Linked DNA regions of Homo sapiens: region 2 is linked to region 1. Evidence: fine-mapped expression QTL. Tissue or cell type: whole blood. Region 1 holds a variant in brackets; the other region holds the start of a gene. All regions are shown on one strand. Distances are between the middles of the regions.

What was found. PIP is the estimated chance that this variant, and not a neighbour inherited with it, causes the effect.
Region 2: POLDIP3 starts here. The variant in region 1 is fine-mapped to the expression of POLDIP3 in whole blood (TOPMed, PIP 0.95).

The regions. Positions count from the first base shown.
Region 1 is chr22:42,581,940-42,590,118 of GRCh38, reverse strand. POLDIP3 (DNA polymerase delta interacting protein 3) reads left to right here. Exons shown (of 9, transcript NM_032311.5): 8 at 2,547-2,613; 9 at 4,151-6,398. The coding sequence ends at 4,328. It also overlaps the pseudogene RRP7BP. Among named protein-coding and RNA genes, the nearest start is that of POLDIP3, 29 kb to the left of the region's middle. RefSeq lists a silencer at 8,136-8,179. The variant G/C (reference allele first, on the strand shown) is at 3,553.
Region 2 is chr22:42,611,345-42,619,516 of GRCh38, reverse strand. It overlaps POLDIP3 (DNA polymerase delta interacting protein 3), which reads left to right and starts at 4,634. Exons shown (of 9, transcript NM_032311.5): 1 at 4,634-4,718. The coding sequence starts at 4,660. CYB5R3 (cytochrome b5 reductase 3) reads left to right here. Exons shown (of 9, transcript NM_000398.7): 9 at 1-1,677. It overlaps RNU12 (RNA, U12 small nuclear), which reads right to left and starts at 4,273; the gene lies at 4,124-4,273. LOC124905127 (a long non-coding RNA gene) reads left to right here and starts at 4,738. Exons shown (of 2, transcript XR_007068118.1): 1 at 4,738-7,604. RefSeq lists enhancers at 3,647-3,776, 4,427-4,486, 4,567-4,746, 4,239-4,782, 4,783-5,326 and 1 more and silencers at 4,217-4,276, 4,817-5,146.

The DNA.
Region 1 (8,179 bases):
TCTTGAATTATTTTCTAATCTCCCTTGTGATTTCTCCTTTGACCCATTGGTTATTTAGGATTGTTTCAATTTCCATATATTCATGAATTTTCCAGATTTTCTTTTCTTCTATGAGTGTTTAAGGAAAATATGTATTTTCTTGTTGTTAGGTGGAATGTTCTGTACATGTCTATTATGTCTTGTTGCTTTGTAATGTTTAAGTGCGTTTCATTGTTGATCTGCTTGGTTCTATCTAGTATTGAAAGTGAAATACTGAGGTTCTGTTTTTTTTTTTTGATACGGAGTCTCCCTCTGTCACCCAGGCTGGAGTGCAGTGGCATGATCTCAGCTCACTGCAACCTCTGCCTCCCGGGTTCAAGCAATTCTCCTGCCTCAGCCTCCCAAGTAGCTGGGATTACAGGTGCCCACTGTCACGCCCAGCTAATATTTGTATTTTTCGTAGAGATGGGGTTTCACTGTGTCAGCCAGGATGGTCTTGATTTCCTGACCTCATGTTGGCCAGGCTGGTTTTGAAGTCCTGACCTCAAGTGATCCGTCCACCTGGGCTTCCCAAAGTGCTGGGATTAGAGGTGTGAGCCACTGCACCCGGCGAGATCTTTATTACTGTTGGTCTGTTCCTTTCACTTCTGTGTATTTTTATTTTATATATTTGAGGTTCTGTTGTTACTTGCATATATGTTTGATTGTTTTCTTCCTGATGAATTGACCCTTCAGTCAAATTTAAATCTCTCTTTACCTCTAGTCACTTTTTTTGTTGTTTTAAAGTATATTTCATTTTATATTACTAATAGCTAATAAGCTAATAAGTAAAAGACCAGCTTTCTTAGGGTTGCTATTTGAGTGATATATCTTTGTTCACTTTTTTTTTTTTTTTTTGAGACGGAGTCTCGCTCTGTCGCCCAGGCTGGAATGCAGTGGCATGATCTTGGCTCACTGCAACGTCTTCCTCCCAGGTTCAAGCGATTTTTGTGCCTCAGCCTCCTGAGTGGCTGAGACTACAGGTGTGCACCACCACACTCAGCTAATTTTTAGTATTTTTAGTAGAAATGGGGTTTCTGCCATGTTGGCCAGGCTGCTGTCAAACTCCTGGCTTCAAGTGATCTGCCCATCTCAGCCTTGCAAAGTGCTGGGATTACAGGCATGAGCCACCAAGCCTGGCCCACTCTTACTTTCAATCTTTTTCTCTCATCAACTGTAAAAATGTGTTTCCTAGGCTGGGCACAATGGCTCACTCCTGTAATCCGCCAGGCGGATCACCTGATTGGGAGTTCGAGACCAGCTTGACCAATATGAGGAAACCCCATCTCTACTAAAAATACAAAATTAGCCAGGTGTGGTGGTACATGCCTGTAATCCCAGTTACTCCGGAGGCTGAGGCAGGATAATCGCTTGAACCCAGGAGGCGGAGGTTGCCGTGAGCCGAGATCGCACCATTGCCCTCCAGCCTGGGCAATAAGAGCGAAACTCCATCTCAAAAAAAAAAAAAAAGAAAGAAAGAAAAATGTGTCACCTATAGAGAGTGTATAGTTAGATCTTACTGGTTTTTTTTTTATTTGAATTCAATCTGACAATCTGTCTTTGGATTGGATTATTTAATCCATTCATATTTAATATTGATAATTAGGTTTATTTCTTCCATTTTACTTTTTTTTTTTTTTTTTTGAGGTGGAGTCTCGCTCTGTTGCCCAGGCTGGAGTGCAGTGGCATGTGGTCTCTGCTCACTGCAAGCTCTACCTCCCAGGTTCACGCCATTCTCCTGCTTCAGCCTCCTGAGTAGCTGGGACTACAGGCGCCCGCCACCACACCCAGCTAATTTTTTGTATTTTTAGCAGGGACGGGGTTTCACCATGTTAGCCAGGATGGTCTCGATCTCCTGACTTCGTGATCCACCCGCCTCAGCCTCTCAAAGTGCTGGGATTACAGGCGTGAGCCACCGCGCCCGGCCCCATTTTACTTTTTTGTTCCTCTTCAGTGGCTTTTCTTTCACATTTTTTCCCCAATATTTTAATTCCTTTAATGATGTATTCACTAACTTAACTCGAGTAAGATATGGAAATGTTACTCCCACATGGCCCTGTTCCTTCTTCCTCTTTTTTGTGCTATTACCGTTACACATGTTATGCTTTGTATACAGTGGGAGTGTGGTCTTCCTAGTGCTTCATCCTTTGTAGACAGAGTAGAAGCCTGTACATAATGCTTTTGATCATCTTTTCACTGAATTTGATAGCATAAACCTTTTCCCTTACTACTTGGATGGCTTCACATTGAGTCTCGTTTCTCCCTCACTTCCCACTCATCTCTTCCTGTATGAAGCAAGGTTTGTGGCCACTTTGCCTCTTGGTGCTCCACTGCTGAGGTTTCCTCACGCCCTGGGATTTTCTTAGTGTCTGGCTTGACTGGAACCTAGCAGCCCCATCTCCATCTGTGGAGCCAGAACTGCCAGTGGTGGGTGCTTTGACCATTGATAATGGAGGTACAGCCCTTGTCCTCTTGTGTGAGGAGCCGAGGTCTCATAGCAGAGCCTTTTTCTTTCTTTGGTTTTTCAGGGCAGCCGATGAAGTGCAACCTTCACATGAATGGGAATGTTATCACCTCAGACCAGCCCATCCTGCTGTGAGTTCCAAAGGCGGGGTGCTGGGGAGAGGCAGCTCCGTCCATCTCTTTTTGTTCTAATGGGTAAACTGCCTGCATCACAGCTCCCCTTCATCCCCCCATTCCGTTTCCTCTGTTCTAATGGCAGCTGGCCGTTTCATATGCTTAAACTTGACCAAAATGGTTTGCTTTGTTATTTCCCCAGGGCTTGACCCTATAGGGACTAGCATTATGATCTCGTTCTCAGCTTTCTGATTTAGAAATATCTGAGTGGAAGTTGGAGGGGGAGGCTGCTTGGGTCTCCTAGCTGTGTGCATCATCCCGGGAACAGAGAACTCCACTGCATGATTGGCTCTGATGGAGACAGTGCCAGATGCTACCCCTTATTTTGTTCCCCAGTGAGGTTTTTTGTTTGTTTGTTTGTTTGTTTGTTTTTTGCTTTTTCAGTTATTTTGAGAGTCTCACTGTGTTGCCCAGGTTGGTTTCAAACTCCTGGGGTCAAGCAACCCTCTCCCCTCAGCCTCCTGAGGACCTGGGACTATAGGCGCACACCATCACGCCCAGCTGGATTTGGCTTTTAAGTACAGTGGGAAGCCATTGAAGGCTTTTGTTGCACACAGCTGAGTATACATGCCTGGCCCAGGACTGAGGGATGTTTTGAAGCCTGAGATGCATAAAATGTTGAGACTGTGAGGACTTCACCTTCTAGATAAGGAAGCAGATACCAGGGAGGAGGTTAGACTTGCCAGGGTGAGTGGGATAGTGTGGGGCAGGGCTGAAATAGACTTTGAGATTTAAAAAGACTAGGATTTGAACCCTGGGTAATGAATTATGTGATTTGGATAAGTTCTTAAACTGTGTTCAAGGAATAAGAAATATTTCTTAGGGTTTTGTAACCTAATAAGTTTGGGAACTACTGGGCTAAACAGAGTTACATCTGTTTCACTTTCGGGCTTCTCA[G/C]ATTGTGTAATATGCTAATGGATGTTACCATCCAGAAGGAACATGCAGTGTTTCCTAAACTTAAAACCACAATTAGCCAGGTGTGGTGGCATGCACCTATAGTCCCAGTTACTTGGGGGGCCGAGGTGGGAGGATCGCTTGAGCCTGGAAGATCGAGACTAGTGAGCCATCATCATGCCACTGCACTTCAGCCTGGGTGACAGAGTGAGATTCTGTCTCAAAAAAACCCCACAAAACCCTAGAACATACAGCACTGCCTGCGTCTCCATTTTCTCATCAGTAAATAAGAAAAACACAGCCTGGGCCACATAGCAAGACCTGGTCTCTACAAAAAATTTTAAAAATGAGCCAGGCATGGTGGTACACGCCTGTAGTCCTAGCTCCTTAGGAGGCTGTGGCAGGAGAACTGCTTGAGCCTAGGAGATGGAGGCTGATGTGAGCTGTGATTGAGTTTGCTGCGAGGTGGAATGAGATGAAGGGGTATGGAAAGTGTTACACCCAGTGCCTAGCTCATGACAGATGCCCAGTAAATGGTGGGTCCCCTCCCCATCTAAGGAAAAACTGACAAGAATTTTTGACTCTTCTCTGCTCTCCACAGGCGGCTGAGTGACAGCCCATCAATGAAAAAGGAGAGCGAGCTGCCTCGCAGGGTGAACTCTGCCTCCTCCTCCAACCCCCCTGCCGAAGTGGACCCTGACACCATCCTGAAGGCACTCTTCAAGTCCTCAGGGGCCTCTGTGACCACGCAGCCCACAGAATTCAAAATCAAGCTTTGAGCAGGGGAGTGAGGCAGCCAGAAGTGGGGGCAGAGGAGGGTGGCTCTGTTTCCCCAAGGCAAAGCTTATGACCAATGGGCCATCGGACTGGAGACCCCTGATTGTGGGAAGGGTTGCCAGGGATAAAGAGCTTCCTCACTGGATGGGACCCGCCTTTCTGTGTTGTGTTCTGCCCTGTGCTCTTCTCTCTACGTTAACGTTTCCTGTAGTATGTTTCTTCATCTCATCGCCAAGGTAGGCTTGTGTTTTTCAGTGTGTGCCTCCCCGAGCCTCAGCCCCAAGCTGATTTCTTATCTGGAAATGGTACACTGAATTCTCTGGGTGGCTTTCTTGTGGCCCCATGGGATGCAGCGTGGGGGCTGTCTGAAGGACCCTGCTTTTTCCAGGGGCCGAGGGGCTGCCTTTCCTTTGTGTGTATTAAGCTTTTCAAACAATGGAGGGGATGGAGAGCCCTGGTGTCCTGACGGGAGCCAGGTCGGCCTGAGAGCTGTGCCGCTCCTCTGTCTTGTCAGTGGAGGTGCCTGGGTGGGGAGCAGGTCTCAGGCCTCTTGTCCTCTCCCCAGTGGCTCCAGGCCTCACTAGTGGCAAGGGCAGGATGAGGCTGCACCGCTGGGAAGAGTCTATCTAAGCTCTTGGCTTGGAGTCCCGTGTCGTCTCCACCCAGAGGAAGTTCTCCAGAGTTCACCTTTCCCTTTTCCTTGAGTTGTGCTGAATGCCCCACCCCAGCTCTCTTTCCCTTCTGGGTGTCTTTGCTGGGAGGGGGCTGTGTTGTGAGCCCTCCCGGTTCTCACCTCGCCTGGCACTTAACCACACCCTGGTTTTGTGTAGCCGCCAGCTCTCTTCTGGTTGGGCCTTTGAAAGGCTCAGCCTCCCATTGTGCAGTGCTTGGGTTTGGAGCTTATTTGAATGGAAGAGGTCAGTTTGTTCCTGGCTCTCCATTTCTGGCCTCAGTTGTCTACAGGACAGTGGTCAGGGATGCCTGGAGGCATATATCCAGCTGCCACCAAGGGGCACTGTTTGTTCCCACTTATGTGAGTGACCCCATCCATCCATGACCAGAGGATTATTTTCCTGCCTTGGCAGAGGAGGAGGAGTCAAGGGAGCAGGGCAGCTCTACCAGGCAAGGTGTTTCCCCAGCATAGGCGCAGACAGTTGGGACGAAACTTCAGAGCCCAGGCAGTCCCTGAATGACCAGGCCAGTGTTGTCACTGAGTGGTCCCCTGCTGGTTGGGAGTGAAGAGAATCCAGGCTGGCAGAGCTGGAGCCAGTTGGGGAGCACGGTTCTGGGAGCTCTGCAAAATCAGTAGCAAGTGCTGGAAAAGGCACATGCCGAAGATACTCAAGAGCTCCCAAGATTTGCTTGAGGCTAGCCCAGTGAAAAAAACCAGAGACTCATGTTTCCAGGGGTCAGTCTGTCAGGCAGGAAGGACCCAGGATTTGAACCCAGCTTCAGTGTGCAGGCTCTGAGGCTGCCCAGGACGGGAAAGTCCAAGGAAGGGGCCTGGTGGTGCTCCACTTGCAGTTCTTTAAAGAATGCTGCTTTTTATTCTCCTAACCCTTTCAAGTGGGTGCAGACTTCTCGTTAGCAGCTGGAAGACATTCCTCCCACACTTTTCCCTTCCTGGCCCAAGAGAGCATCCAGAAGGCAGTAGGACCTGGTTTTTCAGGTACTGGGAGCCGGGGGCTCACTGCTTGCACTGTGCTTAGGGTAGGGATGGTAAATATCCTCCCTGCATGGCTTTATCCTCCCTCTCATCCCAAAGCAGGTATCTTCTGGTTGTCACAGAGTTTCATTGAGTCCAGCTGCAGCCACGTGGCCATCTGGAGCTGGTGCTATAGGTGACCATCTGGTACATTGAGGGGACCTGTTTGCCTCCTCCACTCTATAAGCAGTCATCTTGGGAGACCGGGAGGAGAAGGTGGTGGGCTAGTCCTGTGTCCTCCTCCACTTCCCATGCCTCTATGTTACCCATCTGTGTCTCCTGTGCAGAAGGAGAGGAAGGGGCATTAAGAGATGAAGGGTGATTATGTATTACTTATCCATTTCTGAATAAACATTTGTTATTCCTACCTTTGAGTTATCTTTTTTTTTTTTTTTTTTTTTTTTTTGAGACAAAGTCTCACTCTGTTGCCAAGGCTGGAGTGCAGTGGCACTATCTCAGCTCACTGCAACCTCCGCAGCCAGACTCAAGTAATCCTCCCACCTCAGCCTCCCAATTAGCTGGGACTGCAGGCGTGCATCACCATGTCTGGCTAATTTTTGTAGAGATGAGGTTTCACCATGTTGCACAAGCTGGTCTTGAAATCCTGACCTCAGGTGGTCTGCCTGCCTCGGCCTCCCAAAGTTGGAATTAACAGGCGTGAGCCACCACGCCCAGCCAAGGGTTTTAATCTTGCAGGGATTTCAACATTTGGGGTGGAACTTAATTATTTAAAAAATAGAGACAGATTCTTGCTATGATACCCAGGATGGTCTTGAACTCCTGGGCACAAGTGATCCTCCTGCTTCAGCCTCTCAAAGTGTTGGAGTTACAGGCATGAGCCACTGCTCCCCACCAGGGATGCAAATTACTTGATACTCCTCTCCAGAAGGTGGGGTCCTGTGCCCCTCCTGAACCCAAGTGTGCTCTGTTACTACTTTGACCAGATGTGACTCTGCCATTTCTGTGCCTAGGCTTTTAAAGATGGTCACTTCTCCATTTCCTGTGCCTGGAACATTCTCTGGGAGCCTTGACACCACATTTGAAGTTGCCTATTGGGGCCAGCATGGTGGCTCACGCCTGTAATCCCAGCACTTCAGAAGGCCGAGGCAGGCAGATCGCATGAAATCAGGAGTTTGAGACCAGCCTAACCAACGTGGTAAAACCCTGTCTCTACTAAAAATTACAAAAATTAGAGGGGCGCGGTGGTGGGCGCTTGTAATCCCAGCTATTCAGGAGGCTGAGGCAGGAGAATCACTTGAACCCGGGAGGCGGAGTTTGCAGTGAGGTGAAATCACGCCACTGCACTCCAGCCTGTGCAACAGAGCGAGGCTCTGTCTCAAAAGAAAAAAAATAGTTGACTGTCGGTTTGGCATGGTGGCTCATGCCTCTTGTCCCAGCACTTTGGGATGCTGAGGCAGGAAGATTACTGGAGCTCAGGAGTTCGAGACCAGCTTGGGCAATATAGTGAAGCCCTATCTTTACAAAAAACGAAAAATTAGCTCAGCTACTCAGGAGCCTGAAATGGAGGATCATTTGTGCCCAGGAGGCAGAGGTCGCAGTGAGCTGTGATCATGCCACTATACTCCATCCTGGGCAACACAGTGAGACGGCAGAAAAAAAAAAATAGTTGACTATTGAGTCTCATATCTGATTGCCCACCTGACATCTCCCCTGAGTGGCCTAATGGGCATCTCACCACGGCCCACAGAGAACTGATCTACTCGATTTTCCCTAAGCTGGCCCCTCTCCTGCAGTCTACCCATGTCAGTCAATGGCAACACCATCCTCTTAGTTGCTCAGACTGAAAAGCTAGCAGCCATCCTGGATTTCTCTCACACTGCCTATTCAACGTGTGAATGCATGAGTGGAAAGCTGAGTTCGCACTCGTGACTGGCCGGGGTCGACTCTGACATTCACTCCCACTTTGGCGCGCTGATTTGCCTCTGAGCGGATGAAGGTTGAGCCATGGCGGGCGGGGCCGGGGAGGCGGGCTTGGAGCGAGGGGGCGGGGCAGGCGCCACAAAAACGCGCTCGCGCCGGCGCCGAACCGCAACTCCCGGCGACCCCCGCGCTCCCGGGTGGCAAGATGGTGGCGCGCAGGACGAAGCTCGCGGCGCGGGACCCGGAGGACGGTATCCCGAGCCCACC
Region 2 (8,172 bases), 29 kb before region 1:
TCCCTGTCCTCATGACCCCTCGTCCACCCCCCACACACACTATAAGGCTGAGGGCTGCCAGCAGCCCCGTCTGCCCACCATTCCCGGCCGTGGACCATAGTCGGGATGTCAGCAGACACACATGGGCAGCCCAAAGCTGCAGGTGCCAGGGCCCACCCCAGCCTCGCCTGTCACCCCCACTCCCGCCTCAGGGCCAGGCCCAGGCCTCACCACCTGACGCTGCATGAGACATTGACACCAGAAAGCCCTCTTGGGGGCACTGCTCCCTACCCCAGGGCCCTGGCCAGCCGGGAGCTTGGCTCTCCTCTGGCTAGAGTGGGAAGAGGGGGCTGGCCATGGGGCCCTCCCAGAACCTCAGCATTTCCTTCCAGCCCATCCAAACACTGAGGCAGCCTTGGGGAACCCCGAGCTGGGGGGTTGGCAGCCCACTGCACCGCCTCAGGGTTTTGGGGTCCTGGGCTGGGGCCACCATCCCTGATGGCAGAACTCCCACAACCACATGTATTTATTCCTCTGTCCTAAACCGTCCCCTCCTTCCCTCACCCCCAGCACAGGGGGATTCTGAGCAGTGCCTCTTGTCTGAGGGACATATCAGTGACCTCGACGTTGCCTTTAGACTACAGTTGTGTTAGCCTCTTGCGTATTGGCTTTTTCAGAGTCATTTATGAGCAGAAAAAAAAAAAGTAAAACTTTGCTAATATTAACCCTTCTCTAGCTCCTCGAGGGTCTGTGACCTGCAACACAAGGGGTGGGGTCAGGAAAGGGCTGGGGAAGACCTAGCATTTTTTTTTTCTTTTTTTTTTTTTTTTGAGACGGAGTCTCCCTTTGTCACCCAGGCTGGAGTGGCATGATCTCAGCTCACTACAACCTCCACCTCTCGGGTTCAAGCGATTCTCCTGCCTCAGCCTCCCGAGTAGCTGGGACTAAAAGTGCCCACCACCACACCCAGCTAGTTTTTGTATTTTTTTTTTTTTTTTTTTGAGACGGAGTCTCGCTCTGTCGCCCAGGCTGGAGTGCAGTGGCGGGATCTCGGCTCACTGCAAGCTCCGCCTCCCGGGTTCACGCCATTCTCCTGCCTCAGCCTCCCAAGTAGCTGGGACTACAGGCGCCCGCCACTACGCCCGGCTAATTTTTTGTATTTTTAGTAGAGACGGGGTTTCACCGTTTTAGCCGGGATGGTCTCGATCTCCTGACCTCGTGATCCGCCCGCCTCGGCCTCCCAAAGTGCTGGGATTACAGGCGTGAGCCACTGCGCCCGGCTCCAGCATTTATTTCTGATGTATCTTTGTGGTAGAAAATTTGGAAAGTGCAGAGAAGTATACACAGGAAGAAAAATTCCCAACCCCCAGAGGCAAACCAGCTGAAACCACGCAACCCCAGTCACCCCAATGCACCGCGAGGCTGCTGCCTCCTGTCAGGGTCAGATGAGCCTCGAGGCTCAGGAAAGTCAGAGGATGCCATCTGCATGGTGGTAAATTACAGAGGTGATGAGGCAAGGTGGGTGTGGGGCTGTTCTTAAAACGGGGCAGCAGGAAGGCCCCAAGGAGATGGATTTGGGCTGGGACGGGAAGAGAGAGCTGGCCATGCTGGGGTGGGTGGGTGTTCAAATGGTGGAAACAGCAGACGCAAAGGCCCTGCCGTTGGAACCAGCTTGTGGAATAAACTTTCAGAAACAGATCGAAGAAGATAGGTGGCTGGAAGGGGCAGCAACGATGAGGCTGGAGAGGGAGGCGGGGCTAGGCTGGTGCTCCGGAGACTTGCTGGGTGGCCCTAGGAGCACAGTGAGGCCAGTGTGGCTGGAGGGGAGTGGGGAAGAAGAGGGGACGGGGCAGGTTCACAGGAAGGAGGGCCCAAGACCAACCTAGGGGACTAGGAGAGCCCTGTCTCCTCTCACTTCGCATTTTCCATTCTGTCTCTGGCCACCTCACTACCTACAGTGGCAGGAAAAGGAATCTCAGACCCAAAATGGCCTTCACACTGTGGCGGGGGACTGCTAGCAATGGACACGCGTTAGGTTTCATCCTCATTTCTGTCCCTGTCTGAGGCTGAAAGGCACAGGATTTGAACACAGGCCTGCCTGAGCCCACAAGAGGCTGCCTCCTGGGAAAGGGGACGTGGGAAAAGGGGATCAATTGGACCCGATTCCCACCCTCTCCAGGTCTGTTTCCCCATTCAGAAAATGGGAGAGGGCTCTAAGGCAGCGATTCTCCATACAGACTCGACACCTTTATTTATTATTTTTGGGACGGAGTCTCGCTCTGTCTCCCAGGCTGGAGTGCAGTGACATGATCTTGGCTCCCTGCAGCCTCTGCCTCCCAGGTTCAAGCGGTTCTATTGCCTCAGTCTCCGGAATACCTGGGGATTACAGGCGTGCACCACCACACCGGCTAATTTGTTTGTATTTTTAGTAGAGATGGGGTTTCACCATGTTGGTCAGACTGGTCTGAAACTCCTGACCTCAGGTGACCCACCCTCCTCGGCCTCCCAAAGTGCTGGGATCACAGGTGTGAGCCACCATGCCTGGCCAACACCTTTAAAATAACAGTTGTAACGGGCCCTTTACGCTGCAGAATTCACAGGCAGTATCACCTACCTATACGAAGAATTTTAAAAATCAACACAGCTCTAAATGAGTTGTAAAAGAACAAGAAAGGAGGCCGGGTGCTGTGTCTCATGCTTGTAATCCCAGCACTTTGGGAGGCCGAAGCAGGTGGATCACCTGAGGTCAGGAGTTCGAGACCAGCCTGGCCAACATTGTGAAACCCCCGTCTCTACTAAAAATACAAAAATTAGCCGGGCGTGGTGGCGTGCGCCTGTAATCCCAGCTACTCGGGTGGCTGAGACAGGAGAATCGCTTGAACCCGGGAGGCGGAGGCTGTGGTGAGCTGAGATTGTGCCACTGCACTCCAGCCTGGGCGACAGAGCGAGACACCGTCTCAAAAATAAAAATAAAATTGTCCTCCGCATCTGCCCTACACTGCCCAGCTGACCCCACTGGCCAGCCTGTCCTCCTCCCACCTCTTGCGCGTTCCTCCTGGCACGCCTGGAAGGGAGGAAAGGCTTAATGGTCCCGTTCTATGGGTGAGGAAAAGAGGTCTGGGAAGGAGCCCGGCGTGGTGGGGCGGGCCTGTAATCCCAGCTACTCAGGAGGCTGAGGCAGGAGGATTGCAGGATCGCTCTTACCCAGTTTCTTTCTTTCTTTCTTTTTTTTTTTTTTTTGAAACGGAGTCTTGCTCTGTCGCCTAGGCTGGAGTGCAATGGCGCGATCTCGGCTCACCGCAACCTCCGCCTCCCGAGTTCAAGCGATTCTTCTGCCTCAGGCTCCTGAGTAGGTGGGATTTCAGGCCGTGCCACCGCGCCCGGCTAATTTTTTTCTTTCTTTTTTTTTTTTTCAGTAGAGACGGGGTTTCTCCGTGTTGGCCAGGCTGGTCTCGACCTCCTGACTTCAGGTGATCCACCCGCCTCAGCCTCCCAAAGTGCTGAGATTACAGACATGAGCCACCGCTCCTGGCCTCTTACCCAGTTTCTGCACGGAGCTCCTGATGCCTGATGGCCAAGAGGACATAACCCCACCTGTTCTAAGGGCATGGAGTGTATTTTTAGAGTGATTGGACAAAATATGTGCCGAACACCTACGTCAGGTCTGGCGCATGCTGGAGGCTGGGGTTATATCAATGCAAAAGCCATTCCCTGTATTTAACACGTAAATGAATTAGTCTCTTTAACTCTCCCAACGCCCTATAAATTATTTGCTCCATTTTACATATTAAACGCTGTCACGAACTGAGCTGCTGTGTGAGGCCGGGGCCGGACTTATCTTTCTGAAGCACAGAGAAGCGGTTATACGCAGAAGTTTGGGAGAACTGGGTAAGGCCGCACACATGGAAATTGCCAGTTTCGTGGGTCCCAACGTCAATACTGTGGGCAACCTTAGACCGGCTCAAAGCGCAGCTGGGGACGGTGATGAAGTGCAGAGCGTCCACAGCCAGCGACAAGACTGCCAAGCAACTGGCAGCCTGAGTAACGGAGAAAACAACGAAAAAAACGCATTCACCACCTACCAACAAGAAACAAAAAACACGACCACCCCACAGTCAGTCTACTTTTTAGGCGTGAATAAGGTCGGGCAGATCGCAACTCCCAGGCATCCCGCAAAGTAGGCGGGTCACCTTGAGGGCGACCTTTACCCGCTCAAAAATTCGTCTCACATTAGCAGTGAGGATTCGGGCGTCACCCCGAATCGTTATTTTCCTTACTCATAAGTTTAAGGCATAAGGACGTTTTTAGTTTATTTCCTAGGTAATGAATTCTATTCTCATTAGGCGTATGATGACTATCGTAGTTGACTGTTGAGGTCATGATCCAGTTCCATTGAAGTTTGTCTCACTTGTTAATAATGTATTTTGTTGCTTTTCATTTAATTTTTTCCCTCGAGGAAAATAAATAATTCATAATGTGCCGAACTTCCGTATGCAGATGAGCAGCCAGCACCGCGAAGGCTCACGGGGAACGTCCCCGCCCCTTCCGGTTCTTGCCTGCTTTGAGCTGGCTGTCGCGAGAGTTGGTCCGCGGACGCCGGAAGTAGTTCGTCGCTCCCTAGCGGCCGAAGGGGCGGGCTCGCGGGGTCTCGACTGCTTTCGGCTTGCTCGGCGGAGCAAGATGGCGGACATCTCCCTGGACGAACTCATCAGGAAGCGCGGGGCGGCGGCGAAAGGACGGTGAGAGGCCTTTCCTTTCTTCGGGGTTTAGGGTCCTCGGCCTAGTGGAGCTCGAGGCGGGGGAGGTAGCGATCCGGGAGCGACGCGGAGGACCGGGTGCGCCCGCCCCCGACCACAGCCGCGCTCCTCATTGGCCGGCTGCCGCCGTCCCCGCCGTGGCCCCGACCGCCCGCCCACTGGCCGAGGCGCAGTCCCTCTGGCGGCCCTGGGAGGCCGACGGGGCCGCGGCGGGGACAGGGTGCCGCCTCGTGGACCTGAGGGGCTGCCCCCTGGGGCCCCCGCGTTCCGGGGTCCTGGGGTCTCGGCGGCGCAGCCTCCTTGCCTGTGTGGACTGGCATTTGGGCCCCGCTCCGTGATCTCGGCGCTGCCTGGTCTCCACCCATCTTAGAGTTGAGACAACCGAAGTTTAGTAGCGGGGAAGTGACTTGCTCCGACCGCCGAAGCTGAGGCGCAAGCCCAAATCCCCCTGCACGCGGCCCCTGTTAACACTCGCCTCTCTTTGTGCGGCGTTTTAAGTTTTCTGAGCCCTTTCATATACACGATGCCTCATTTAATCTTTTACAGTCCTGTTGTCTGCTAGCTATTCATGTTACCCACCTTTTACTGATGGGGAACTTGAGGCTGGAAGTGGTAGAGTGACTTGCCCGAGGCCACGGAGAACTGAGCGGCGGGCTGAGCGCGATTTAATTGCTGGCTGAGTTGGCCTCCTACATGGGCTTGAAAAACTGGTGTGTTGGGCAGGAGATTGGTTATTTCCTTAGGGAGAAGAAAGTGCTTGAGCTGGCTGAGGAGCCATGGAGGTGATTTGCAGTCATGTCTCCCAAACTTCCCCTAGACCCTTAAATGTTGTTAGTCATTTCAAGCCTTCGTGAGCTGAGTTCATCTGTATGAAGAAGTGAGAACTTTGCCCAATAGTTTCCCAACACACATTAAGTTTAAATGTCTTTGTAAATAGCCAGGATGTAAATATGTTAGATATTGTTTTCTCAGACATTTGTTCTCTCAGCAGATGTTTATTTTTATTTTTATGTTTTTTTTGAGACGGGGTGTTGCTCTGTCGCCCAGGCTGGAGTGCAGTGGTGCCATCTCGGCTCACTGCAACCTCCGCCTCCCCGGTTCCAGCGATTCTCCTGCCTCAGCCTCCCAAGTAGCAGGGACTACAGGTGTGCACCACCACGCCCGGCTAATTTTTGTATTTTTAGTAGAGATGGAAGTTTCACTGTGTTGGTCAGGCTGGTTTCGAACTCCTGACCTCAGGTGATCCTCCCGCCTCGGCCTCCTAAAGTGCTGGGATTACAGGCGTGAGCCACCGGCCCGGCCATTCCGCAGATGTTTATTAATACCACCCGTATGCCTGTGGTTAGGTTTTTCTCTTGATGTCTGAAATGTATCCCTCACCTCCTTCCCCATCCTGGACACTTGTATCAACTACAACTGCCACCACCACCTCATAATTCGCAGCCAGCACTTACCTGGCTTGTGGTTCGTAACGGGCACACATTAGTATTTGTTTCCTCAACTACTGACTGTGAAAGCTCTCTCAGATCTCCATCTAGTGACTGATGTGAAGCTGGTGCTGGCTCCTCTGGCCACTTCTAAGTCCATCCACGTTTTGTAGGTTCCTTTGGAAACGACAGAATGATCCACCCCAGGTTCTTCTCTCTCTGAGGTCACTCCGCCAGTTTCTGACTGCAGGTGGACTGCACTGTAGTCTATTTGATCTCTATGTTTTTGGTTTTAGTGTGTGCAGAGTTTTGTGTTGGGCAGTAGGTGGGGCTGCAGGAATGGGGGGTGGTTATGTGTGGATCCACAGGAACAGGGGCCTTGCAGCTGGATACACCTGGCACTTGCCACTGTTGGGTTCTGTTTCCCTGGCCAGGGGAGTTCTGAACTAGGCAGTTTCCTCACTTGGAATGGTGATTCCTGGTTGAGCGGGATTAAATGTGAGAAGGGTTTTTTTTGTTTGTTTTTTTGAGAGGGAGTCTCACTGTATTGCTCAGGCTGGAGTGCAGTGGCACAGCCTTGGCACACTGCAACCTCTGCCTCTTGGGTTTAAGTGATTCTCCTGTCTCAGCCTCCCAAGTAGCTGGGATTACAGGTGCCCGACACCACGACTGTCTAATTTTTGTATTTTTAGTAGAGATGGGGTTTTACCATGTTGGCCAGGCTGGTCTCGAACTCCTCACCTCAGGCCGAACCCGCTCGGCCTCCCAAAGTCCTGGGATTACAAGCATGAGACACTGCGCCGGGCCAGAAGGTATGTTTTAAAGTTTGTGCCATGTGGCAAGTGTTCAGCAAAGGCTGGTAATTATCTTGGACCTTTCCTTAAAGGCATAGAAGCACACAACGCCCCTGGAGCATAGGTGAGCACTGGGACTCTAGACGCAGACCACCAAGCTTCCAATCCCTGCTTCTCCCACTTTCCCTAGGACCGTCTGCAAGTTACTTAACCATTCCTTGCCTTTCTTTCCTTATGTATAAAACCTGAGTAATATCTACTTTATTAGGTTATTGTTAGGACTGAGTGAATTAATATACCTGAAGTGCATTGAAAAGTTCCTGACAACGGGTACTTAAGTGCTTGATAGACGTTAGCTTTCGTTATTGTCATTGAAGGCTTCTTAAAGTAAAGGAGTAACATGATTCAATTTTTAGCTTGAAAATATTTCTTTGCCATTGTATGGGGATTGGATTGGGGCAAAGAGTGCAGGCAGAGAGACTAGCATGGAAGAACCTGGAGTGCATGCTGAGTTTGAGTTAAATCTTCTGGAAACTCCGTTTTTATCTCACCTGCACAGCCAACAAAGAAAAACTAGATCCAGTGGTCCCTGTTAAGATAATGTGAAAGATCTGAACAAATTCAATGAACAGATGTCATTTCCTGCAGTAAGTTTATTTTTATTTTATTTCTTTATTTTTTTTGAGATGGAGTCTCACTCTGTTGCCCAGGCTGGAGTGCAATGGCATGATCTCAGCTCAGTGCAACCTCTGGCTTCCAGGTTCAAGCGATTCTCCTGCCTCAGCCTCCCAAGTAGCTGGGACCATAGGCATGCGCCACCACGCCTGGTTAATTTTTTTGTATTTTTAGTAGAGGTGGGGTTTCACCATGTTGGTCAGGCTGGTCTTGAATTCCTGACCTCAAACGATCCACCCGTCTCAGCCTCCCAAAGTGCCACCGTGCCTGGCCATACATGCTATTTTACATACTGCCTAGAAGAATCTGCGTACTTGGAACTTTGGTTTTAATGTTGCATGGATATTCCAGGAAGAATTTTGTTGTTTAAGAAAGCTTTTTTCCTCTTAGTAGAAATAGCCAAAGATCCAGCTTGTGGAAGTGTAAATAACCTCTTTCCCCACCACTCTGCTCACTTTGTTTCCTGTGATCCCAAGGATCACATTTGTGGAATGTGCTTGTTCTCAAAAGCAGCCATTCTGTTTTGTGTTCCTCACACCT